Linked DNA regions of Homo sapiens. The protein of the gene in region 2 purifies or fractionates together with the protein of the main gene of each other region. This does not show direct contact. Each region holds a gene or a part of one and is shown on either strand. Other genes may lie near its edges.

Region 1 (7,028 bases), 6.6 Mb from region 2:
CCTTTCCTTGGGAAGCAGAGCGTTGCAAGGCCCCAGGGATGGCAAAACCACAAAAGGGAAGGAGCTGGGTCCCTGAATCCCACTTGGAAAAGGGCCACCCCTGCCTATTGTGGGGGTAATCAACTGCTATTTTGTTGAGCTACCGAAATATCAAGGAATATTTGTTACAACAGCAAATGTACCCAGACACACATCACTAGGAACCAACCTGGTGGCTGGAGGCATCATACAGGAAGTTGGCCCAGTTGGGGTCAGTCTGCATGAATCGGAACTCAAACAGCTCCCGCAGACACAGCGTCAGGAGCTGGAAGCAAATCTGGGGTGGGGAGAATTAACAGGCATCTCAGTGTGATCTCCCTTGTGGTGCCACTGCTGGCCTGGAGAGAGACCATGAGCCTGGCCCACCCGCCCTGGGGCCATGCCCTTCCCACTGTGCCACCAGACAGCATACCTGGTTCCGCAGGTCCTGGCTTAGGCCCTGGCACTGGTCCAGGGGGACCCCTCCAGCCAGCTCCATGCCCAGCACCCGTGTCGTGCACAGCTCCTTAACCACGGCTGGGACCCGGAAGAAGGGGTCATTTGCCAGCAGCTGCCTGGGGCAGAAGGAAAGGGAGGAAGGGGACTTCGTGCTTCAGGCTTGTGACCCAGCTTGAGACCTCCTCCTTGTGCTCTCAGAAGTCCTCCATGAACAGTCTGCGCCATGCCCTCCCTCCTGCCCATCTCTTGCTGCTGTCTGCCCTGGGTGATGACCAACACCTGGCTGGACTGAGATTTAACAAGTATCTCCAAGGTGCCTACTCTGCACCTGCCTCTCAACTGGGTGCTGCTGGAAACCCAGTCACCACTTCCCTACCCGAAACCCTTCTATGACTTCTGGTTGCCCCAGAAGGATGAGTTCAGGTGTATTTCAGCCTTTGCATTACTTTTTCATTAATTTATTAATTCATTCATCCCAAAAGTAGTCACTGGTATCAAAATCTGTGAAGTCTATAGTGATACCCATGGGTCAGTCCTTGCAATCACTACTCTGAACACAGGTAAATAGCGGGAAAGAATCTTCTGTGTCCATCCTTGTGCTAAATGATGCTGGGGACAGAGCAGTGAATGAACCAGTCCCTGGACCTGGCCCCCAACCCCGAGACCACACTCTCACAAACAGACGGATTATAGATTGAGGTAAGTGTGTTGGCTGGGTGCAGTGGCTTACACCTGTAATCCCAGCAGTTTGAGACACCGAGGTGGGAGAATCGCTTGAGCCCAGGAGTTCAAGACCAGCCTGGGCAACATGGTGAAACCTCGTCTTTATGAAAAACTACAAAAATTAGCTGGGCGTGGTGGCCTGCGCCTATGTTCCCAGCTACTCAGGAGGCTGAGGTGGGAAAATCACTTGAGCCTGGGAGGTCGAGGCTGGAGTGAGCTGTGATCTCACCACTGTATTCCAGCCTGGAAAACAGAGCGAGACCCTGTCTCAAAAAAATAAAAGAAGTATGTCTATGTAAGATTTGGGAGGCAGAGAATATGAGCAAGGTCTCTGGTTGAGGATCCGTGGGATGGCTGGAGGAGAGTGAGGGAGAACAGGAGGGTGGTGTGGGGTTTTATCCTAAGGGCACCCGGGAATCCTGTGGGGGACGGGGGGGTCTCTGGCCCATCACCCCACTTCACACTCTCTTCCTTGAGCTCCTCCTTTGGGGTTTGTATTTTTGTCCTTGTTGATAAAAATCTCTGATGTTTGAACTGCTCCTCATGAACCGGAGCCATGTGGGGCATTTAATCGGCACACTCCCCTTTCATCCTCACTCCACAGTGAGGGGATGCTCTCTGGAGGCCACTGTACAGATTGTATGGATGCAGGCCACGTAACCTGTTAAGGGCTGACCCAGGATTTCATCCCGCATCTGAGTCTAGGGTGTGTGCCTCTAACCACTGCCTTCTACTGAGCTTTCACTCTCTGTCTACAGAGCTTGGCACGTTTTAGGCTGTCAATAAATGTGTGAGCCACACTGTGGAGGACCCCACTGAGGTGCCATTAATTGCTACACATCAGGATGCTTCCAAGATATAACCACATTGTTCCACGTAGCCATAGTTCATGCATTTTCACTGCTACGTAATATTCCACAGATGAATATACCGTTGCTTATTTGTCCACCCTGCTGGATAAACTTGATGGATATGGGTTGTTTCCAGTTTGGGGCTGTTGCAGACAAGCGTTCTAGAACAGTCTGATGATGGATACTGGCAAAAGGGTCCCTAGAGTGTTCAGCAGGGAGGGCAATCGTTGGCTTGCAGAGTTCTTGAATATAAGGGCTTATGTGATGATGCCAACCTGTTCTCAAAATGCTTCTACCACCTTCTCCCACAACCTGCAGTGCAGAAGGGATGCTGTGGAGCCCACTCTCTCTACCTCCCAGTGCTGTGGGCTCCTTGCTCTCCGTCAGTCCAGCAGAGGTAAGAGTGTGTCATTGTGTAATTAATTAAGTGCCTGTGTCGGACCACAGTGGATATGCGGCCCATCTGACACAGGAGAAGACTGCCGCTTGGGAAGTGACCTGCCCAAGCTCACAGAGGACAAAGGGGGTAAGCGAAGTGATGGATGAGTGGAAGGATGGATGAACAATGATTGAAAGAAAGAGAGAGTTTGCCCTACCCCACAGCTCCAGCTGCCAGAAGCTGAGGGGGCAGCTACTTCCCACCCAGCCTGGGAGGGAGGGAAGGAGGGAAGCTCAGGGCACTCAGCTCACCTGAAATTCTGGGCACAAGCCGCCTCACGACGGTAGTCACACTCCCAAGCCAGCTCCTGCTGCAAGGCCTGCAGGCTCTGCTCGGCAAACAGGCCTGTGGGGGAGGTGTGTCAGCCAGGGAAGGGCCCCGAGCGCCCACTGGTGGATGCCTTCTCCTGCCAACCCTCTCTCTCCTGTCTCCCGCGCTGTCCCTCACAGCTCCTACTCTAGGCCTGTGACCCACATCTGTCCCTCTCCTGTCTCCCACGCAGCTCCTGCTCCTGCCTCTGACCTGCATCTGTCCCTCTCCTGTCTCCCCCGCTGCCCCTTGCAGCTCCTGCTCCAGGCCTCTGACCTGCATCGTATCATCTGTCTACACATTTCCCTCGTCCTTCATAGCACCACAGGGTTCCCCGGGGTCTTCCGAAGCCTTTTCTGGGCTCTGTCTCTTGCACATGCCTGCACCCCAGTCCCTGGCAGCTCTTTCAGAGTCACGCCTGCCTCTATTCTGTCTCCTTTTCATACTGACTCTCACGTTGCTCACTGCATCTGAATCTCACTTCTGGGCCTGGCTTTCCCTCTCCCTCTCCGTCTCTTACACAAACACAACCCACCCTCCTTTCTCTAGGCGCCTCCTCACGTGCCATCCCCAGGACTGTCCTTTTCTGCTCTGCCGCACCTACAATCCCGCTCCCTGCATGCACACCCTCTGAGAGTCTGCTGCTGTATCTTGGCCCTGGGCTCCCGTCTCTCTAAGGCTCTGTTAAAATCCATAAGGCTTTTCCCACACCTGCTCATGCTCCCTGGGCTCTCCCCGCCTTGGTGTCCTTTCTGTCTCTGACACTCCCGCTCACAACGCCAGCACACCCTGCCCGTGCTCTCCTCTGGGCTCCCCCTCCTGCTTTCTCTCTCTGGGCATAGCCCCTTTGGGAGGTCAGCAGAGGAGTGGGTGGGCGCCTCACCCGCGGGCAGGGCCGCGCTCATCTTGAGTACCGCCAGCAGGTTCTGGACATCGCTCTGAATGCTCTGGGCTATGCCGGGGTACTGTAAAGGGAGAAGGGAGGGAGAGAAGGTGGGAGTCACTTCTCTGGGCTAGCAGGGTGCCCGCCCCTACCCTGCCCAGCCTCCCCTCTCACCTGGATCTTCACGGCCACCTCCGTCCCGTCCCTCAGCAGGCCCTGGTGCACCTGCCCAATTGAGGCAGCGGCAAAGGGCACCTCCTCCAAGGAGGCCACCTTGGCCTGCCAGTCCCTGCCGAGCTCCTCTTCAAGAACTCTCTGCGGGGAGTGGTCACAGCCATCATCATTGTGGCAGAGTTCATTCCCCAGGCTGAGTGCTTTACGTGTTGATAACCCCAGCACTCACCACATGCAGGGCCCTGGGCTAAGCTCTTGGCTGCCACCCCCTTTGCAGATGAGGAAACTGAGGCTCAGAGAGAGCTCCCTTGTGCAAGTGACTAGCCAGGCACTGGCAGACTGTGAGGCTCAGCCTAGCCTGTGTCCCCTGAACCTGGACTCCCTGGGCTGTTGTGGGGATTGCTATTATTTATAGTTAAGACTCATAACAATCCTTTTTTTTTTTTTTTTTTTGAGACAGGGTCTTGTTCTGTAGCCCAGGCTGGAGTGTAGTGGCACTCTCACGGCTCACTGCAGCATCAACCTCCCGAGCTCAAGCCATCCTCCTGCCTCCTGAATAGCTGGGACTACAGATATGTGCCACTGTGCCCAGCTAATTATTACTGTTATTATGTTTAGTAGAGACAAGGTCTCACTATGTTGCCCAGGGTGGTCTGGAAGTCCTGAGCTCAAATGATCCTCCCACCGCAGCCTCCCAAAGTGCTGGGATTACAGGCATGAGCCATTACACGTGGCCAACCATCCTTTATTATGCTCTTATATGTTATTATTAACTCACAGTTACTGTGATCAAGAAGAGCTAAAATTTACAATGGGCTTCCTGTGGGCCAGGTCCTATTCAGAGTGGCCCAGAGAGAGGCAGTACCTGCCTGGGGCCGCATGGCGAATAAGCAGAACAGGGATGGGAGAGCAGGTGGGTGGCGGAATCCTGGATTCCATGCCTTACCCAGTTATTAGAACAGCTCATGTCCTGGGCACTTACTTGGTGCCAGGCGCCGTGCCAACCTATTACAGACACGATCTCCTTTAATTAAAAAAACAGTAATAATCACAGCTAACACCTGCATGTTGCTCACAGTGAATCAGGGGCCGTTCTCAGTGCTCAGTGTAAACTGATTTATGTGACCCTATGATGTGGGTGTGGCTGTCACTATCGCCATTTCCCAGGGAAGGGAACTGAAGCACAGAGAGGTCAGGCTGCTGTTCCCTGTTTTAATCACCACAGCAATGCTAGGAGGTGTGTACTCTGGTGATTCCCATTTTACAGATGGGGAAAGTGAGGCTCAGAGGCAGGGAGTGGGGCAGTGAAGCCAGGAAGGTCAGGCAGGTCAGAGGAGATGGAGCCTGCCTCCCTCACCGCCCTCCCCCACTGGGCACTCACCAGCATCTGCCAGCGGGGCATGAAGTCGGCGCTCTGGCGGACCCGCTCAAAGATGTGCTGCAGCTGAGGGCTGATGAAGCTGTTGTCTTGGGAGACAGTGGAACCAGGGGGGAAGTAAGCGAAGAGGTGAGGAGGGACCCCGTGTGAGTATCTGAAGTTGGGGCCTGTTGGTGGGTAGGGCTGGGGTAGAAGGGAGGTCAGGGGTCAGGAGTCGAGGGTCATGCTGTACCCTGGATGCTGAGCATCTGGCCAACCTTGAGGGCGGCCCCTCGAACTGTACATAAGGTCTGCACAATCCGCTCGGCATTGGCCTCCGACAGGAAGGGGCTGGAGTCCAGCCCAGAACCACCCTCTGGGGAGAGAACAACCATTAGAATTATAACCACAAATATCATCACTGCGGCCAGGCCCGGCGGCCCACGCCTGTAATCCCAGCACTTTGGGAGACCCAGGCGGGATGAACACAGGAGTCTGAGACCAGTCTGGGCAACAGTGACATCCTTTCTCTATTAAAAAAAATATATATCATCTGCACACCAACAGGAATGGCTAAAACGAAATACGGAGGCCAGGCTTGTTGGCTCGCGCCTATAATCCCAACACTGGGAGGTCAATGCAGGAGGATGGCTTGAGTCAAGGAGTTCCAGACCAGCCTGGATAACAAAGCAAGACCCTGTCTCTAATTAGCTGGGTGTATGGTGGCATGTGCCTGTAGTCCCAGCTACTCAGGAGGCTGAGGCAGGAGGATTGCTTGAGCCCTGGAGGTTGAGGCTGCAATGAACTGTGATCGCACCATTGCACTCCAGCCTGGGCAACCAAGCAATACCCTGTCTCGGGAAAAAAAAAAAAAAAAGAAAAGAAAGAAAGAAAAATAAACATAAGTTAAAACAAATTGCAGGAGAGTCAAAGAGTAACTACTACAGTATTGAATAGATGAGCTATCACTACACACAACAGCCCAGGTGGGTCTCAAAAATGTAATGCTGAGTGAAAGCAGCCGGGTGCATGAAATCATCACCCAGTTACACTGATATAAAGAGCAAAACAAGGCCAAACAAATCCAGGGTCCAGGAGCCAAGACAGAGGTCACCCTTGGTGAGGGGAGTGACCAGGTGGGGACATGAGAAGGGCAACGATTCTCGAAATGTGGGCCAGGGACCCCTGAGGGTCCCTGAGACCATTCAGAGGGGTCTGAGAGATCAAACTATTTTTATCGTAACATTAAGATGTTATTTTCCCCTTTCTGCTCTCATGCGTCTAAGAACATTCACTGGAGTTCTCCAGAGGCTCCAGGACATGTGAGGACACCATCAGACTGACAGCTGATGGAATGTGTACGTGTGTACTCTTGTGTTTTAAAAATATCTCTGTATTTTTGTTGTGTTTTTGAGACAGTGTCTCACTCTATCACCCAGGCTGGAGTGCAGCGGCACAATCATGGCTCACTGCAACCTCCTGGGCCCAAGTGATCCTCCTGCCTTAACCTCCTGAGTAGCTGGGACTACAGGTATGCACCACCATGCTTGGCTAATATTTTTACTTTCTGTAAAAATGGGGCCTCGCTATGTCACTCAGACTGGTCTCAAATTCCTGACCTCAAGGGATCCTCCCGCCCCAGCTTCCCAAAGTGTTGGGATTACAGGCGTAAGCCACCGCACCTGGCCTAAAAATTTCTCAGTTTTAATTTCTAATATGGTAGACATTGATAACTATAATCCACATAAATAAGCTCTTTGGAGGCTCATTCTAACAGTTTTATTGAGAAATAATTCACATACTGTTATAATTCAC
Region 2 (5,683 bases):
AGATCTGTTTTCAGCATATTGTTTGAGTTATGCATTGGACATCAACTGGGGATGTCAAGTGGAACGTTGGATATAATTATCAAGCCTCTGGAAAACAACTTAGAGATAGAGAAGCCAATTCATACATTATTATCAAAAGAAGAAGAATAAATGGACTAAGCATTCTGCTTAAAATTTCCAAACAAGGCCAGGTGCGGTGGCTCACGCCTGTAATCCCAGCACTTTGGGAGGCCGAGGCAGGTGGATTACCTGAGGTCAGGAGTTCGAGACCAGCTAAGCCAACATGATGAAATCCCGTCTCTACTAAAAATATAAAAAATTAGCCAGGCATGATGACGGACACCTGTAATCCCAGCTTCTCGGGAGGCTGAGGCAAGAGAATCGCTTGAACCCAGGAGGTGGAGGTTGCAGTGAGCCAACATCGCATCATTGCACTCTAGCCTGGGCGACAAGGAGAAACTCTGTCTCAAATAAACAAACAAACAAATAAATAAATAAATAAATAATCCAAACAATAATTATAATTTTTAAAAAAGGAAAATTGGAGGAAATGAACAACAAATGGAAATCAACAAGAAAGCCACAGTCTATCAACCATAGGATTGTATAGCAAGCTTGAGACTAGTTCTTAGAGAAATTATTAATAACTTGGTTCTTTGAAAACTTAAGGAAATCAATATTTCTATGGTAAAAAAACAAATAGCAGAAATAGACAAACTTTAGAACAAAAAAGGGAAGTTATAGCAAAACAGATGGCTTTTAATAATCAAAGGTATTTTATGTAACATTGCACAGACTTAAATTTGAAAATTCCCGTGAAATGTATTCCAGTTCAAAAAAGAAGGGCTAATGATCTACAAAATGAAAACATTTCAAAAACCACAAAAGATGTTTTGTAAAAGTTATCAAAGAATGCTCCTAAGTGGCAACTGGTCCCAATAGATTAATGGGAGGATTTTGCAAACTTTAAGCCCCAAAGCGGGGTTTTAGCCCACGAGGGTTCTTGGCTTTGCCCAGAAAAGAATTCAAAGGTGAGCAGGGGCAAGGCAGGGGAAAACAGCTTGCTTTCTTTCCTTCCTTCTTTCTGTCTTTGTGTCTTTCCTTCTTTCTTACTATTTTTTTTTTTTAGACGGAGTCTTGCTCTGTCACCCAGGCTGGAGTGCAGTGGTGTGATCTCGGCTCACTGCAAGCTCCGCCTCCTGGGTTCACGCCATTCTCCTGCCTCAACCTCCCGAGTAGCTGAGTCTACAGGCTCCCGCCAACACGCCTGGCTAATTTTTTGTATTTTTAGTAGAGACAGGGTTTCACTATGTTAGCCAGGATGGTCTTGATCTCCTGACCTCAGGTGATCCACCTGCATTGGCCTCCCAAAGTACTGGGATTACAGACATGAGCCACCACGCCCAGCCTATACCTATTTTTAGCCTATACCTATTTATATAGGTATAAAAATAGCCTATACCTATTTTTAATTACATGTAGATTAAGGGGCAGTTTATGCAGAAATATCTAGGGAAGGGGCAGTAACTTCTGGGTCATGGGGTCATTGCCATGGGAAGGGGCAGTAACTCCTGGGTGTGTTGCCATGGCAATGGCAAACTGACATGGCACACTGGTAGGCGTGTCATAGAAAGTTGCTTCGGGCCAGGCGTGGTGGCCCACACCTGTAATCCCAGCACTTTGGGAGGCCGAGGTGGGCAGATCACCTGAGTCAGGAGTTCAAGACCAGCCTGGCTAATATGGCGAAACCCCATCTCTACTAAAAAATACAAAAATATTAGCTGGGCATGGTGGCATGCGCCTGTAGTCCCAGCTACTCGGGAGGCTGCGGCAGGAGAATCACTTGAATCCGGAAGGTGGAGGTTGCAGTGAGCCGAGATCGTGTCACTGCACTCCAGCCTGGGTAACAGAGCAAGACTCCTTCTCCAAAAAATAAAAATAAATAAAAATAATAAGTTGCTTCAGCCTCCTCCCTGTTTTAGCTGGTCCTCAATTTGGTCCAATATTCGAGCCGAGCCCCATCTCCAGAGTTGAGTCCTGCCTCCTACCTCAAAGGAGCTGTATAAATTGTTCCACAACAAATTTTATTTTACAAGACAGCCTTGGTCTTAATTCACGCATGATAATTCAGAGTAAAATACTAAGTAATAAAATATCAGGCCGGGCGTGGTGGCTCATGTCTGTAATCCCAGCACTTTGGGAGGCCGAGGCGGGTGGATCACCTGAGGTCGGGAGTTCGAGACCAGCCTGGCCAACATGGAGAAACCCCGTCTCTACTAAAAATAAAAAAAAAAAAACATTAGCTGGGTTTGGTGGCACACGCCTGTAGTCCCAGCTACTGGGGAGGCTGAGGCAGGAGAATCGCTTGAACCTGGGAGGCGGAGGCTGTGGTGAGCTGAGATCGTGCCATTGCACTCCAGCCTGGGCAACAAGAGTGAAACTCCGTCTCAAAAAAAAAAAAAAAAAAAAAAAGTGATACCAGTGCTTTCTGACTGAGCTCCTGTCTACCCTGAATCCAATAGATCCTAAGAGTTAGGCAGGTATATCGTCACCCCTGTCCAGCCTGAAGAAGTCACAGAAGTTGTATCTTCCTCCCTCTACAACCCTTAGGATTAAAGGTTCTCTTATAAAAGGGAGCGGGGAAATGTCAGAGGCATGTGAACCAGAGTGACTCCATCTTGAACAGGAGCTGGGTGAAATAAGGCTGAGACCTATGGGCTGCATTCCCAGGAGGTTAGGTATTCTAAGTCAAGGATAAGGCCGGGAACGGTGGCTCATGCCTGTATTCCCAGCACTTTGGGAGGCCAAGGTGGGTGGATCACCTGAGGTCAGGAGTTCGAGACCAGCCTGGCCAACATGGTGAAACCCTGTCTCTACTAAAAATACAAAAATTAGCCAAGTGTGGTGGCAGCGCCTGTAATCCCAGCTACTCGGGAGGCTGAGGCATAAGAATCGCTTGAACCCGGGAGGTGGAGGTTGCGGTCAGCCGAGATCGTGCCACTACAATCCAGCCTGGGTGACAGAGCAAGACTTCATCTCAAAAAAATAAAATTAAATTAAATTAAAAAAAATTAGTCCAGTTGTTACCCTTGGGGAATTTACAGTTTAGCTGGGACCTTGTGTTCCAGAGACTCAGAGAAAGGAAGAGCCCATTCTTTCTGGAAGGAGCATAAATCAGGGAGGGCTTCCTGGAGGAAGTGACATTTGAGGGACGCCTTGAAGGAAATTATTGATGATGAAGAGCAAGAGCATTGGAGTCAAAACTGGGATCAAATTCCAGCTGTCTGGTGTTCTTGCTGTGTGATCTTGGGTAAATGACCTCCCCTCCCAGGACCTCAGCTTATAAAATGAAGCATGCCACCCTATCTCCCTGGGCTGTTGTGAGAATGACCTTAAAGGAGAAACTATATGTGAAGTGCTGTTCTGGAGTAATGACCGCAGACACAGGTATCACTACTATGTTATTTATTTATTTATTTATTTAGCGGCAGGGTCCCGCTCCGTCACCTAGGCTAGAGTGCAGTGATGAGATCACGGCTCACTGCAGCCTCAACCTCCCAGGCTGAAGCAATCCTCCCACTTCAGTCTCCCTAGTAGCTGGCACTACAGGCATGTGCCACCAAACCAGGCTAATTTTCTTTTTTTTATTTTTGTAGAGATGGGGTCTTGCTCTGTTGCCCAGGCAGGTCTCCAGCTTCTGGGCTCAAGGGATCCTCCCGACTGGGCCTCCGAAAGTGCTGGGATCACAGGCGTGAGCCACCATGCCTGGCCTACCATGTAATTTAAAAGATCTGAGCAGGTAGAGTTCAAAAGTAAATTCTAGAACAGCATTTTGTAACAGAAATCTCTGTTATGATGGCAATGTTCTATAGCTGTGCTGTCGAATATGGCAGTCACCAGCCATATGTGGCTACTGAGCACTTGAACTATGGCCAGTGTGCCCGAGGAACTAAATTTGAAATGAAAATTTATTCTTTCTTTCTTTTTTTTTTTGAGATGGAGTCTCATTCTGACATCCAGGCTGGAGTGCAGCGGTGTGATCTAAGCTCACTGCAAACTCCACTTCCCGGGCTCAAGCAATCTACCTGCTTTAAGGAGGATTGAAGCAGAAGGATTCAAGCAACTCCCTCCTCAGTAGCTGGAACTACAGGCACGCCCCACCACGTCTGGCTAATTTTTGTATTTTTTGTAGAGATGGGGTCTTGCTATGTCGCCCAGGCTGGTCTCAAACTCCTGGGCTCATGCAATCCTCCCACCTCGGCCTCCCAAAGTGCTGAGATTATAGGCAGGAGCCACCAGGCCTGGCCAATTGATTCGAATTTGAATAGCCACAGATGGCTCTTGATTGTTGAACTGCACAACATAGATCAGAAGGACATTCCAGCCAGTGGCACAGCTTCAGGAAAGATGCAGAAGCGTGAATATAGCCCGAAGGGTGTGTATTAGCTTCCCACGGCTGCTATAACAAATCACCCCAAACATAGTGACTTAAAACAATACAAATGTATTTTCTTAAAGGTCTGCGGATCAGAGGTCTAAAAGTGTCAGGAGGTCTGTGTTCCTTCTGGGAGCTTCAGAGAGAATCTGTTTCCTTGTCTGTTTCAGCTTCTGGAAGCTGCCTGCATTTCTTGGCACCTCCTCACGTCACTATGACATCTGCTTCCGTTGTCACCTCCTGTGACTGACCCTGACCCTCCTGCCTCCCTCTTAAAAGGACCCTCGTGACTCCATTGAGCCCACCCAGACAATCCAGGATAACCACCCCTTCTCAAGATCCTTTACTTAATCTCACCTGCAAAGTCCCTTTTGCCATGGAAGGTCACCTCTTCACAGGTTCAGGGGATTAAGATGTGGACATCACCGGGGGTCATGATTCTGATTGCTACAGGGTCTGAGAAGCTAGAGAGTAAGTGTGTCCAGTGGTGGAGAGAAGCCTTGAATGCCGAGCTAAGGAGCCTGGACTTGGCCTTTCCTTCAAAATAGATGCATGACCTGTCAGCCTCTCACCACCTCAGCTCTGTTACCCTGATCCAAATCGCTATCACCTCCTGCTTGGACCATTACAGTAGCCTCCTCTCTGGGATCTTCACTGCCCCTACACCATACTCTCACCTCCACCAGCAACCAGAGGGATCCTATTAAAATCTTTTGGCCGGGTGCGGTGGCTCACGCCTGTAATCCCAGCACTTTGGGAGGCTGAGGCGGGTGGATCACCAGGTCAGGAGATCAAGACCATCCTGGCTAACAAGGTGAAACCCCTTCTCTACTAAAAATACAAAAATTAGCTGGGCATGGTGGCGGGCGCCTGTAGTCCCAGCTACTCAGGAGGCTGAGGCAGGAGAATGGCGTGAACTCAGGAGGCGGAGCTTGCAGTGAGCCGAGATTGTGCCACTGCACTCCAGCCTGGGCGACAGAGCGAGACTCCATCTCAAAAAAATAAATAAATAAATAGAATCTTTTATTTATTTATTTTTTGAGACGGAGTCTCGCTCTGTCGCCCAGGCTGGAGTGCAGGGGCTCAATCTTGGCTCACTGTCACCTCTGCCTCCCGGGTTCAAAACGATTCTTCTGCCTCAGCCTCCCAAGTAGCTGGGACTACAGGCATGCGCCACCATGCCCGGCTAATTTTTGTATTTTTAGTAGAGACAGGGTTTCACCATATTGGCTAGGCTGGTCTTGAAGT
Region 3 (7,361 bases), on a different chromosome or scaffold from region 2:
AGCAGAGAGAAGCCAGATTAGAGATGGGCCCAGTTGAGGATTCATCCCAACCTTGGGCAGATCGCTTTTCCTAAGCCTGTTTCTTTTCTTTTGAGACGGAGTTTCACTCTTATCGCCCAGGCTGGGGTGCAATGGTGCAATCTTGGCTCACCACAACCTCCACCTTCCAGGTTCAAGTGATTCTCCTATCTCAGCCTCCTGAGTAGCTGGGATTACAGGCATGCGCCATCACACCCAGCTAATTTTGTATTTTTAGTAGAGATGGGGTTTTTCCATGTTGGTCAGGCTGGTCTTGAAATCCCAATCTCAGGTGATCCGTCCACCTCAGCCTCCCAAAGTGTTGGGATTACAGGCGTGAGCCACTGCGCCTGGCTGCCTCAGTTTCTTTATCCATGAAATGGGGTTCGTGTTCATCTCACTGGATGAAGATGAATGATGGCGGATGGACAGCACTTACGACCACGTCATAATGAGCACCCAATATATGCAGGCGACGGCTAGGATGGGTGGCATCCCATAATGAGTAGCCAGCGTTCCAAAGGTGGGGCACGAGAGAAAGGTATAGCAAGACTCGGAATTCCAACAGTTAAAGGTAAATCCTGGACACTCTTGTTGCCTCATGTATTGAGTGGCTTTTTTGTCCCCAGACTTGCTAAGCTAAAAATGAAAGGGAAACCTTAGGTGCTCATTAACTGCCTACTTGCTTTTTCCCAGTTTCGGTTGAATAATCACTTGACTATAATGTTTAGTAAGTCAAAAACACACATGCTGAATATTCATGGAAATTTTTTATGTTTCTAGGAAAAATACAAGAGTGGGGAGGTTAGAAGCTAAGTTGTTTTTTGTTTTCTTTTGTTTTTTTTTTTTTTTCTTTCCCACACATTCTCAATTTCTTCTCAGATTCAGGAGAAGAGGAAAAGGCTATGACTCACTGGAGGTTAAGAAACCCCTTCAGCCCCCTGTTTCTCTCCTTGTTAGACCATAAACTGGCAGCTGTTACTCTTTAGGAAAAGGAAAGAAAATCCAGATGAAAGATGTTTTGTTTGCAAGCCATCTCCCAAACAGAACCTCAGAGTTCCTGAAATTCAGTGTGAAACAATCATCTATGTGACACCAAGCACTTTTACTAAAAGGATTTCCCCCATCACTGAGCTAAACCCCTACTGGAACTTTTCAACTGAGTCTGTCAGGAGGAAAGGTTTTTTTCTTAAATGTTCTAAGAGTGAGACGGTGATAATTTAACAAGCACCTGTAAAGTGTTAGTTCCCATCAGCCCTGCTGATCACTTAAGTCAAGCAAAATGCAGACACAGAAAACAGGGTGGATGATGGAGAAACCTCTCCACTGGACACCCCAGCCCTGTACTCTTCTCAGGAAAGCCTCCTTCTGTACTAAGCCAGCCATGAGCCCTCCCTAAGGCTGAGCTGTAAGCAAAAGAATGTAAAAGATTCTGAACCCCAGCTTCAGACCCTCCTCCCGAGATCATAAATAGCACTGAGAGCTCAAGTTAGGACTTTTCATACCTGTCAGTCACTTTTAGCCAAAATATGCCAACAGGCCCCTGCACCCGGAGGTGGATTTACAAGCTCAAAGCTGAACTATGACAATAAAAGAAACACATTTGCAGAGTGACTGGCAGTTTATTAAGCACTGCTTCAAACATTTGATCCTCACAGCTACCTAGTGACAACTCCCCATCTACCCAGTGGGGAGAGGAGAGACTCTCTCCCCCGACAGCTCCTTGCCCAGTGACCACAGTAGCTTCCAGCTTCCTTCGCACATCTGTTCATTGTCATCTGTGTTATTTCTGTCCTCATCAGGGATGGGGACATCTCATTGCAGCTCTGCACTTTAATAATAAGCAACCCCAGATCTTCCAGCTCAGTTGGCTCTGGGGAATTGAGTCCAAATCCATGGCCAGTTGGAGAGCAAGTCCAATCCAAGACAACTTCTCACACCATGAACACCTGGGAGAGCCGGTGTCAGGCCTGACCTGGTCAGCCTAGTTCAGATGTCCATTCCCAGAGGCTGCCTAATGCCAAAGAGTGTCTGCTCACCCTCAGGATGAGGCCAAGTCACCCTGGAAGCCCCCCAGTGAGCAGCACTGGGCAAGGTGTGTGATGCCTGTCACCCTCTCCACTCAGGAGCCAGAGAGATGCCGTGGGGCCAGCCCTTCCCGGTGCAGACCTGGGGACCTTCCCTCTCTTGGCCAGCTTCTCAGCACCCACCTGCCCTGGAGAGTGGGAAAGAGGGGAGGGCTGAAGATGGGTTAGCACAGATGGTGACCACCAGGAGGTCAGGGGAGGAGGGGGATGGGACGATGGAAAGGTGAGTGTTGCCCGGAAAAGTGGACGATCAGCTCAAGATTGTGGAAGGAGGTTTATGGCGCCTCATAATTCGTGGGACAGGGGAGGAGGGTCACCACGTGAAATATGGGAAGTGGGTGATGCTGAGGGCTGGGGGAGGGGACAGGAGGTGAGGAAAGAGGGGTCACAGGGGAGAAGGGAGATGGAGGAAGGGACCACGATGGGGCAGGGAAGAGGAGTAGGAGGAGGTCTAGGGAGGGTGATGCCCGGCTCCGAGGCGGCGGCGCTTAGCACGTACGAGCACTGGCCTCGGCCGGGCCGGGATGCGGGCGCCCGGGTCCCGGAGCATCCTCGGCGGGGGCGGCGGCGGCGGCGGCGCCGGTAAGGGAGGGCCGTGGGCCTGCAGCTGCCGGGCTCCCGCCTCCAACCCCTGTCCTGGGGTCGGCCCAGCCGCGCCGCCCTCCCGCCCCGGCAGCCCCCGGAGACGAAGCTTACCTGCGCCCGGGCGCGCGGACGGCTGCCGGGACCCAGGAGACGCCGCCGCCCGAGGGCGCGGACCCGCGGACGGCCCCTGCCCGGCGCCGCGGAGCCGCCGCCTGGCTGCTGCCCAGCCCACGCCGCGGGAGCCCGAGCCGGAGCCCGAGCCCGAGCCTAAGCCGCGCCGGTGCCCCTGCCGGTGCCGACGCCGCGCTGCGCTCCGCGGGGCCGCGAAGACCACAACTCCCACAATGCCGCGCGCGCTGGGCCGCCGGGGGAGGGGGTACGGGGGGGCGGGGCCTGCGGGGCGGGGCCGGGGACCCCCCTGCACCCGGCACCTGCGCTCGCAGTGCGGGAGGCGACCCGAGGCCGCGCCCGCCGCCGCTCCGGAGGGTCCTGGCAGTGCGCCCCGAGACGCAGCGCCCGCCCAGCCCGAGGTTGCGCGCAGGCGGCGACGGGCGTGCAGTCATTCATTAAGAAAGGCTCGCGTCGCTTCCTTCGCTCTTTCGTTTTTCGCTCTGTGTCTTTCTCAGTTCTCCCTCCCTCTGTCTCTCTGTTCCTCTCTGAGTCGCCCTCGTCTCCATTTCCTCCTTTTCATTCTCTTTCACTTCCCCCCCACCTCACTTCCTCTCGCCCTAACGCCTTCTTTCCTTTATTGATGGACTCAACACGGACTTCTGAGGCCCTCAGGCACTTGGAATGGAACCGCAAATCAAACCAGATTCTTAGTCTCATGGAAAACTCATTCGCTCAGTACAGTAATGATGGGCCAGCCTGGGTCCCCGTCCCTGCCAGCTGCGCTGAGCGTGCGCGGTGAGCGCTCAGGCCCGCCCTGCCCTCAGTGAGCCACCGTCTAGCGGGAGGGGACCCTCACCCCCGGGTAGGGTTTAGGAGGGGAAGTACAGGCAGGACGGTTGTCTGACCAGGGGACTGATGAGCTGCGAATGGAGGCCCCAAGGAGGCTGCTTGGAGGAGGTGACGTTTGAGCTAAGACCTGGGGGAGACTAACAGTGGCTACGGGATGTGTTAGGGGCGCCAGGGAAACTGCATGGGTGGGTTCTGGGAGCATAGAGTAGGATGGCCCGCCCACAATCCATCTGTCTCTGTCCCAGACCCACCTCTCTTGTGTCCCAGAATTTATCTCTAACATGGCCCAGAAGCCACCTCATGTCTGTCCCAGAATCCATTTCTCATCCCTATTCCAGAAGCCACCTTCACCCTGTTCCAGAACGTACCTCCTTCCTGTTCCAGAACCCACCTCCCTCCCTGTCCCAGGACCCACCTCCACCCTGTGCCAGAACTCACCTCCTTCCTGTTACAGAACCCACCTCCTCCCTCTTCCAGAACCCACCTCCTCCCTCTTCCAGAGCCCACCTCCTCCCTCTTCCAGAACCTACCTTCTTTCTGTCCCAGGACCCACTTCCACCCTGTCCCAGGACCCACCTCCTCCCTGTCCCAGGACCCACCTCCACCCTGTCCCAGAGCCCACCTCCTCCCTATTCCAGAAGCCACCTTCACCCTGTTCCAGAACATACCTCCTTCCTGTTCCAGAACCCACCTACTCCCTGTCCCAGGACCCACCTTCACCCTGTGCCAGAACCTACCTCCTTCCTGCTACAGAACCCACCTCCTCTCTCTTCTAGAACCCACCTCCTCCCTCTTCCAGAACCCACCTCCTCCCTCTTCCAGAACGCACCTCCTCCCTCTTCCAGAACGCACTTCCTCCCTGTCCCAGGACCCACCTCCTCCCTGTCCCAGGACCCACCTCCACCCTGTGCCAGAACCCACCTCCTCCCTGTTCCAGGACCCACCCCCTCTCTGTTCCAGAACTCACCTCCACCCTGTTCCAGAACTCACCTCCTCCCTGTCCCAGGACCCACCTCCTCCCTGTCCCAGGACCCACCTCCACCCTGTGCCAGAACCCACCTCCTCCCTGTTCCAGGACCCACCCCCTCTCTGTTCCAGAACTCACCTCCACCCTGTTCCAGAACTCACCTCCTCCCTGTCCCAGGACCCACCTCCTCCCTGTCCCAGGACCCACCTCCACCCTGTGCCAGAACCCACCTCCTCCCTGTTCCAGGACCCACCCCCTCTCTGTTCCAGAACTCACTTCCACCCTGTTCCAGAACTCACCTCCTCCCTGTTCCAAGACCCACCTCCACCCTGTCCCAGTACCCACCTCCTCCCTGTTCCAGAAGCCACCTTCACCCTGTTCCAGAATGTACCTCCTCCCTGTCCCAGAGCCCACCTCCACCATGTCCCAGAACCCACCTCTCATCTCTGTCCCAAAATCCACCTGGTCCCTGACCTAAGAATCTGCCTCTACTGTGATAGCCTAAAATCCACCTCCTCCCTGTTCCAGAACCCAGTTTGTCATGTCCCAGAACCCACTTCTTCCATGTCCCAGAGTACACCTCTCCCATGTCCCAGAATACACCTCTTCCATGTCTTAGACTCTTCTTCATCTCTGTCATTTCTCTCCTTTTCTCAACTCCAAAAGAGGAAGAATGTTTTTTCTCTTTTATTCTACTAAAATAAACCAAAACACTTGCATTGGGAAACCATAATATGCACAGATTTGCTCAAAGTGTGGATAATCAACACAGGCATCAGATTTAGAAACATTAAATGGGATGTCTGTCTTCACTGTCAGCCTAAGAGTGGTTGAGCCTGGGTGGGGTGGAGAAAATGGAGTGGGGGGTATTTGACTCATCTCACATTCAGAAAGTTGCTCAAACTTAGAATTCTCCAAAGGCAGTCATACATTCTATCACAGCATTATCCTGGCAGGTTTGAAAAAAAAAAGATATTTTTATATTGTAAATATGTGTTCCATTCCTGCACCATCTTATCTGTACTGTATTATGAATTAATATTGTCTATCAATCCTATAAGTGTCCTTGACCAGTGCAATTATATGATATCTGTAGACCACTGCTCTGCATTTGTTAGTATTTATTTGTTCAATGGCAATATTACTATACACGCAATTTTGTTAGCCCTGCTTACCATTTCTTCATCTTTTTAATTAGCTGGGAGTCTCAATAAATGGAAATGACCTGGGCCTCTGTCAACCCCTTGGAGACCCTACTAGGTGAATTCTGCAGAAAAGGATATCCATGCCTTTCAGAGGGGGATTTTGGGTGAGAGCTCCAGATAAATTGTTACTGTGCTCATGGAGAGGCGGAGAGGAGGACCAAGGGCATCTGAATTGCCTGCCTTCAGCTTGGCTGCCACCTGCATCCTCCTGCTCTCGCTGCCTTCTTTAGCGCAGTCATCCTACCCACTCCGAGACTACACAACCTATCATTACACCGTCTCATACACTCACGGGGTCCACTCAACTCCCTCCTCCTACAGATGGAAGCCCAGAGAGAAAACATGCCTTGCTCAATCAAGGTTGCAGCAAGTCAGTGGAAAATGTGCTTGCGGCCAGCCGTGGTGGCTCACATCTGTAATCCCAGCACTTTGGGAGGCCGAGGCCAGTGGATCACCTGAAGTCAGAAGTCCTAGACCATCCTGATCAACATGTTGAAACCCTGTCTCTACTAAAAGTACAAAAAGTTTTGTATTAATTTTTGTATTAATTAACTACAGGTGTGGTGGTGCACGCCTGTAGTCCCAGCTACTCTGGAGGCTGAGGCAGGAGAATTGCTTGAACCCAGGAGGCAGAGGTTGCAGTGAGCTGAGATTGCACTACTGCATTCCAGCCTGGGTAACAGAGCAAAACTCTCTGAAAGAAGAAAGAAAGAAAGAGAGAGGGAGGGAGGGAGAGAGGGAAGGAGGAAAGGAAGGAAGGAAAGAAAGAAGGGAGGGAGGGAGGGAGATGTGCTTGCTTGGTGCATTAAAGAAACTGGTATGATCACTTTGGAGAGCAGTTTGGTAGTATTCCTTAAAACAACAACAAATATGTATACACTGAAACCAACAATTTCGCTATGCTATATCTAACCTAGAGGGATTCTGGGATAGATGGAAGACTAGTTGTTTTTTCATATTACGTAATACTGTGAAGCTACTAAAAGCAGGAGCTAGATGTATATATAGCAACGTGGATAAAGCTCCTAGAAAAATAATAGGGTGAAAATTAAAAAAAAAGCAGAATTATGATTGTAGTATGATTTTATCTACATAACACGCACCTGTACACATGTGGGTATACACATGTATTTATATAAAAGCAGGGAAAGCACTAGAAGAACACACTAGTATGTTCTCCTATATAAAATGCAAAATAATTACGTTTGTAAATGCAGATAATATCCCTCAGAGGAAGCACACCAAATTCCTAAGAGTTGTAACTTCAGGGGGGACCAAGAAGGAACAAGGAATTGGGAGCAGTAGGCAAGGGAAACTCCAGCATTTTTTGTGATGTTTTAATTTAATATTTTCAAAGGTGTTTAAATACTCCGGAACAACATGCAGAAAGTTACTGGGACCGCGTCACTCTCCTATCCCTCAACCAGTTGGTTTTCTTTAGTGAAGACAGCCATTATAACAAATTTCTTATTCATCTTTTCAGGAATACGCTTTGCATTTGCAAATATTTGGAAATAGCTTAACTTTTAACTTTTAAAA

Evidence for each region. Proteins that work in one complex are often made in the same cells at the same time.
Region 1: the proteins of C5AR2 (region 2) and COQ8B purify together in Homo sapiens (affinity purification with mass spectrometry; 2 studies listed by BioGRID and IntAct, with this or other methods). This does not show direct contact.
Region 3: the proteins of C5AR2 (region 2) and ASPHD2 purify together in Homo sapiens (affinity purification with mass spectrometry; 2 studies listed by BioGRID and IntAct, with this or other methods). This does not show direct contact.

What each region holds. Positions count from the first base shown.
Region 1 is NC_000019.10:40,699,859-40,706,886, forward strand, and holds part of COQ8B (atypical kinase COQ8B, mitochondrial), read right to left. Parts: intron 5,590-7,028; coding exon 5,467-5,589; intron 5,324-5,466; coding exon 5,238-5,323; intron 3,998-5,237; coding exon 3,857-3,997; intron 3,765-3,856; coding exon 3,683-3,764; intron 2,836-3,682; coding exon 2,742-2,835; intron 594-2,741; coding exon 452-593; intron 317-451; coding exon 209-316; intron 1-208.
Region 2 is NC_000019.10:47,342,148-47,347,830, reverse strand, and holds the end of C5AR2 (C5a anaphylatoxin chemotactic receptor 2), read right to left. Parts: 3' UTR 502-5,683; downstream 1-501.
Region 3 is NC_000022.11:26,424,927-26,432,287, reverse strand, and holds the start of ASPHD2 (aspartate beta-hydroxylase domain-containing protein 2), read right to left. Parts: upstream 3,029-7,361; 5' UTR 2,802-3,028; intron 1-2,801. UniProt on the Homo sapiens protein: May function as 2-oxoglutarate-dependent dioxygenase.